Regions from separate parts of the Homo sapiens genome. Here region 1 is linked to region 2. Evidence: fine-mapped expression QTL. A gene starts in region 2. The other region holds a variant in brackets. All regions are shown on one strand. Distances are from middle to middle. Region 1 overlaps EIF4B (eukaryotic translation initiation factor 4B). Region 2 holds the start of SPRYD3 (SPRY domain containing 3).

What was found.
Region 1: its variant is fine-mapped to the expression of SPRYD3 in whole blood (INTERVAL, PIP above 0.99). The same link has a PIP of 0.9 or more in esophagus muscle, fibroblasts, lung, lymphoblastoid cells, prostate and skeletal muscle.

What each region holds. Positions count from the first base shown.
Region 1 is chr12:53,007,882-53,010,797 of GRCh38, reverse strand. The region is part of intron 1 of EIF4B (eukaryotic translation initiation factor 4B); the gene reads right to left. Among named protein-coding and RNA genes, the nearest start is that of EIF4B, 2.9 kb to the right of the region's middle. The variant T/C (reference allele first, on the strand shown) is at 1,577.
Region 2 is chr12:53,078,045-53,080,960 of GRCh38, reverse strand. It overlaps SPRYD3 (SPRY domain containing 3), which reads left to right and starts at 1,571. Exons shown (of 11, transcript NM_032840.3): 1 at 1,571-1,650. The coding sequence starts at 1,628. RefSeq lists a silencer at 1,591-1,870.

The sequences.
Region 1 (2,916 bases), 70 kb after region 2:
AGCTCGAGACCAGCCTGGCCAACATGGTGAAACTCCATCTCTAGAACCGCTTGAACCCAGGAGGTGGAGATTGCAGTGAGCTGAGACCACGCCACTGCACTCCAGCCTGAGCCATAGTGAGACTCTGTCTCAAAACAAAAACAAAAACAAACAAAACAAAAGCTACTTTAAATAATGAATAACAAATGTTTCCCTAAACCAACAACATTGCATAAACACAATCGATCCACCCAGAGTGCCTAGAATTAGACTAATTATATTGGTGTTTACAGCCCAGCCATGAAAAGACATTTCATGCAATGTAATACAATATTTCACCTTCACCTTTACTGCACTATATAGATGCTCCCTGACTTATGATGAGACTGTCAGGATAAACCCTTCTCAAGTAAAAAAATGCATTTACTATCCGGATAAACCCATTGTAAAGTCAAAAAGATCCCAGTGCAAGCCACCTTTTGATTTAGTTGGGGATTGGGTAAGTTTAGCATAGTAAAGACTGAGTCAAAACTCATAAGCTCCACCATCTTGACCCCCGTACGGGTTCAGTTACATGACCTCTCTGTGCCCAATTACTTCATTTTGACAGAAGATGCCATACTACCTTTTCCTTATCCCTCCAGGGATACTCAATTTGATCATATACATAATCAAACAAAATAAGTGCCCAATGCATGCCATGCTAACCATTACACAAAATGGGAGACAGGAGGTACACAAATTCAAGTTAAACTTCTTGATTTGGTACTTTCCCACTATCAGGACCATAGCAGTATCTACTACAAATTTAAGAAACTGGCTCATAAATGTACATAAGGCAAACCTAATTACAAATAATTACTTAAAATACTGTACTCAAGTTCAGTTATTTCCTCTACCATCACGAAAAGAGAATTCCAGAATGTTTTGAGATGAAATATACCTCTTTTTTCAATGACATTACTTAGAAACACTGCTTTATCTTAATTGACACTATTCTGTATTTGTATTTAAACTTTCATAAAGAGTTTTAATTTTGGCCTTCTGGGTATCTTACTCACAGAATAACATATACATGATAGAGGATGGAACTTGACACTAGGGAATCTGTAAGCAATATATAATGGCACCCCTTAAAACCATTTCACTGTGAGAGTCAGCAGTGTATGAAAACAACCACTGCAGAGCATCTTCTCCCTATAAAAATAATCAAATAAGATGTCACACAGGACTGCATTTTGAAGCATTATGGAAATGAAAGGCCTGTGCATGAGCTTACATATGTTATTTCCAATTTTAAAGTTTGTTTTTGTTTTTTTTTTTTGAGACGGAGTCTCGCTCTGTCGCCCAGGCCGGAGGGCAGTGGTGCAATCTCAATTCACTGCAACCTCTGCCTCCTGGATTACAGGCGTGAGCCACCACGCCCAGCCCAAAACCCCGCTAATTTTTGTATTTTTAGTGGAGACTGGGTTTCACCATGTTGGCCAGGCTGGTCTCGAACTCCTGTTCTCAGGTGTTTCACCCACCTCAGCTTCCCAAAGTGCTGGGATTACAGGCATGAGCCACTGCACCCTGCCCAATTTGAAAGCATTTTAAA[T/C]GTTAACCTGTATCAAACGCATTTGATTCCCTCTAGGTAAGGGGACAGCAGATAAATAATGACCACTTTCCAGATAAAGAAACTGAGATTCAAGCGGTAACTGGCTTATTACTGGCAAGTCTACTAAAGTAGTCACAATGAAAATTTAAGAAAAATGAAAAACTTCGTATTTTTAAGATTTTTTTTTGAAATGGAGTCTTGCTCTTTTGCCCAGGCTGGAGTGCAATGGCACAATCTCGGTTCACTGCAATCTCCCCCTCCCAGATTGAAGCGATTCTCCTGCCTCAGCCTCCGGAGTAGCTGGGATTACAAGCACGCGACACCACGCCCAGCTAATTTTTGTATTTTTAGTAGAGACAGAGTTTCACCATGTTGGTCAGGTTGGTCTCCAACTCCTGACCTAGTGATCCGCCCGCCTCGACCTCCCGAAGTGCTGGGATTACAGGCGTGAGCCACCGCGCCCGGCCTTTAAGAATTCTTTTTAAGAAGCAAAGCAAGGAATTAAGTGTACTGGCTCAATGTATCAAGTTTCTAGGAATTCAAACTATCCTCATTCTATAGTTAGTTCTGAGACCTACCTTAGTTCTTGAAGGTCAATAATGGATCACACTGGAAACTGGTATTGCTGCAAAGAATTTTTTGGTCTCATTTAACAGTAAAAGAGGCGTATGAAGTTGTTTTATGTATTTTCACACAGAACACATAACATCCATTTCCCACATCAGGGAATACTGGTTACTTCACAAAGCCAGTGTGACTGGAAAGAGGAGCGGGGAAACAATCCGATAAACCCCAGATTCCTCAAGAACAGACTGAAAGATGTGACTTGTGCTCAGATACCAGTACCAGCTAAAAAGATTTACTGAAGTGAATTAAAGGAGATGAGGGTTTTCAAGGGGGTAGAGTAAATATGGAAGAACAAGAGAATGGGACGTCAGAGTAAATCCCTTTTATCAGTCTGGATTTCCCTCAACTCGGTAAAACGAAGGACATGAATTGCTGTCCTATGTTCCGCCTCTAAAAATTACACAAAAGTTAAGAAAACACAGATTTTCTTCACTAAATTACGATACTAAACTGTTAAGGTGGCAAATCCAGACCAAGTAAGTACTTTAAGCAATGGTTAGTTTAAAATATATTTAGGACTTTTACTAGCCCACTGGAGAAAAAAATATGAACATTTTTGTAAACTTCAGATGCTTTCGGGCAGCGTCCTAAACTGATGATGACACCTTGATACTTTTAAGTTGCTAAGGAGTCTCAAAGATTATGACCTTGCTCTGCCAGCTGAGAGCAGTGTGGCCTTAAATAATATTCCTTAGCTGAGAAATACCACTAGC
Region 2 (2,916 bases):
AGTGTTGAGGTATTTTCATAACACAAGAAGAGGAGCGGAGGAGAAGCAATGAGGGAATCAAAAGGAGGTGGAGATGAGTTGGAAGGGTAGCTATTCAGAACTGAGTCATCCAGGGGCTGGAAGGGAGCTAAAAGAACACATACTTCAATAATTCTTGTTTAGGGATGAGAACACCAAGACCTTGACCTTTTAGTCACACAGAATTGGGGCTCTAATCCGGGTTTCTCTGTTTCCCATCTCATCTATTCCTATCACCCATTGCCGTTATGCCGAGTGGGCACTATTCACGGTATGCGAGCTGATGGCTTTCCTGGCACTCAACACGTTAGAGTACCTAGTGTGATAAGAATAGAATAGTCTGGGGTCTGAAGGAGCTCACAGTCTAGCAGAGACGGGTCTACACACACAAGTAACTCCAATAACGAAAGCAAGACGGTAATAAGTGTTATAAATGGCGGGGGGCGGTGGCTCACGCCTGTAATCCCAACACTTTGGGAGGCCGAGGTGGGCGGATCAAGAGGTCAGGAGATCGAGACCATCCTGGCTAACACGGTGAAACCCCGTCTCTACCAAAAATACAAAAAAAATTAGCTTGGCGTGGTGGCGGGCGCCTGTAGTCCCAGCTACTTGGGAGGCTGAGGCAGGAGAATGGCGTGAACCCAGGAGGCAGAGCTTGCAGTGAGCCGAGATCGCGCCACTGCACTCCAGCCTGGGCGACAGAGTGAGACTCCGTCTCAAAAAAAAAAGTATTATAAATGAGGTGCTACAGAGGAGAGGAATCTTTTCCGTCCAGAAGAGAGAGATATGGTGATGGGAAGGGAGCAAGGAAGTCCTCATCTAGGAGTCCAACCCCCCAGAATGGCAGGTAGGCACTCCCTAGTAGGTGTTCAATAAATATTCGTGTCTTCGTCCCTTCACATTCTAACCCCAGTCTAACTTTCCTTCAGCCTACCAAAGCCCTGTGTTCCTCCACAGAATGCCGCTTCGTGCCACTGTGCCTTCTGCATCCCCAGTTCTCTCCTCCTGGAATGGAATGTTCTTGCCAATAATGAGCGAGCGGTGCCATGAAACAGAGCTCGGGAGGGTACACAGCATAACAGTTAAGCGCGCAGGCTATCGAGGCCAGCCTTCGGCCCATCCGTAAAAAGGAGATAAGATTTATTTCATAAGGCTGCACCGTGGATTAAATGGACATTCCGGTAAAGCTTTTATTTCAGTCCAGCGCGGAAGGAGGGCTCAAGTAATACTCGCAACGTTTGTGCGAGCGTGGCCACCTTCTCCGCCCGTCCCGTCTCCCCGGCGCCGCTCAAGAGCCGCCCCCTGTCCGCCTCAGCGGCGCCCAGGCACCCAGCAGCGTCCGCGCTGCCACGTCGCCTTCGCTCACCCCAGCAACAGCCGGGTTGACCAGACCGGGGCCCTGAGCTGGGTACCCAGGGCACCGGGCCGCGCCCCACACCCTGCCTGCGCCTTCCGATTGGCTCCTGCAGGTGCCCGTCGTCAGAGGCCGTTGCTGATTGGCTTAGATGGGGGACGGGGCGGGCCTCTAGGAGTGAAGGAAAGGCGGGGACCCGGATGTGTGTGGTGGCGGCGGCCGAAGAGCTTGTGTGCGGAGCTGAGAGGCCTATGGATGAGGAGGACGCGGCGGCCCCGGTAGGCGGGGATCGGGGGCGGGGTCCCGGAGGCCTCGTATCTCCCCGGAGCCTGAAGCGGAAGGCGGGGGTCCTGGGCGGGGGCTCTGGGGCCAGGGGCGGGGCCCTGCGCTCTGGTCACTGGGCTTCTTCTGTTGCTGCACCCTCGGCCCAGTGCAGGGCCTGGGGAGACTGGGCGTAGGCACACGGATGGGCTGGGGCCCGGCTGCTCCCGGGTCTCATCTCAGTGATCAGGCCGTGCCCGGGGAGGAGACAGGGCCCAGTAGGGCCGCCACTCGCCGGTGCCAAGACTGTGGGGTCTGCGCAACCAGCATCTACCTGGGGTTGAGTCCTGGCTGAGTGCCCGGGAGTGGAATCTTAGGGCTGTCTGTCCCACAGGTGCCTACTCTTCTGGGCCACGTGGTGGGTTGTAGCTACTGCATAAGAGTCGTAATTTGCGTATTGGGATCAAATTCAGCCCAGCCAAGGCTTACTAAGCACCTACCGTGTGCAAGGCAATGTCAGGCCTCAAGAAAACCCCTGTCCCAGTGTTTAGGGAATGGGAAGAGAAGAGTACTTCACCTCTTTCTCACTTTTGGCTCCCAGGAAAAATCATTCATTCATTTATATGTAGGGACTGATGGTTGTTTAAATACCTGGATCATCCCACCCCCATCCATCGGCGCTGCTACCGACTTAGTGGATGTCATTTCTCATGTGAACTGCTGCAACAACGTCTGAATTGTTTGCCCACATCTGTTCTTGATCCTCTTGTGATCAGTTCTCCAACCAGCAGCTGGAATGATCTTTAGGAACTGATTAAGATCGTGGCTTTTTTTTTTTTTTTTGAGATGGAGTTTCTGTCACCCAGGCTGGAGTGCAGTGGGACGATCTCGGCTCACTGCAAACTCCACCTCCCAGGTTCAAGCAATTCTCTTGCCTCAGCCTCCTGAGTAGCTGGGATTACAGGTGCGCACCACCACGCCTGGCTAATTTGTTTGTATTTTTAGTAGAGATGGGGTTTCACCATGTTGGTCAGGCTGGTCTTCAACTTCTGACCTTGTGATCCTCCCACTTCGGCCTCCCAAAGTGCTGGGATCACAGACGTGAGCCACCAGGCCCAGGATCATGGCATTTTTTTTTCTTTTTTTTTTGAGACAGGGTCTTGCTCTGTCAGCCAGGCTGGAATGTAGTGGCACAATCAGAACTGACTGCAGCCTTGACCTGCCAGACTCAAGCCATCTTCAGTCTCCTTAGTAGCTGGGACTACAGGTGCATGCTGCCACAC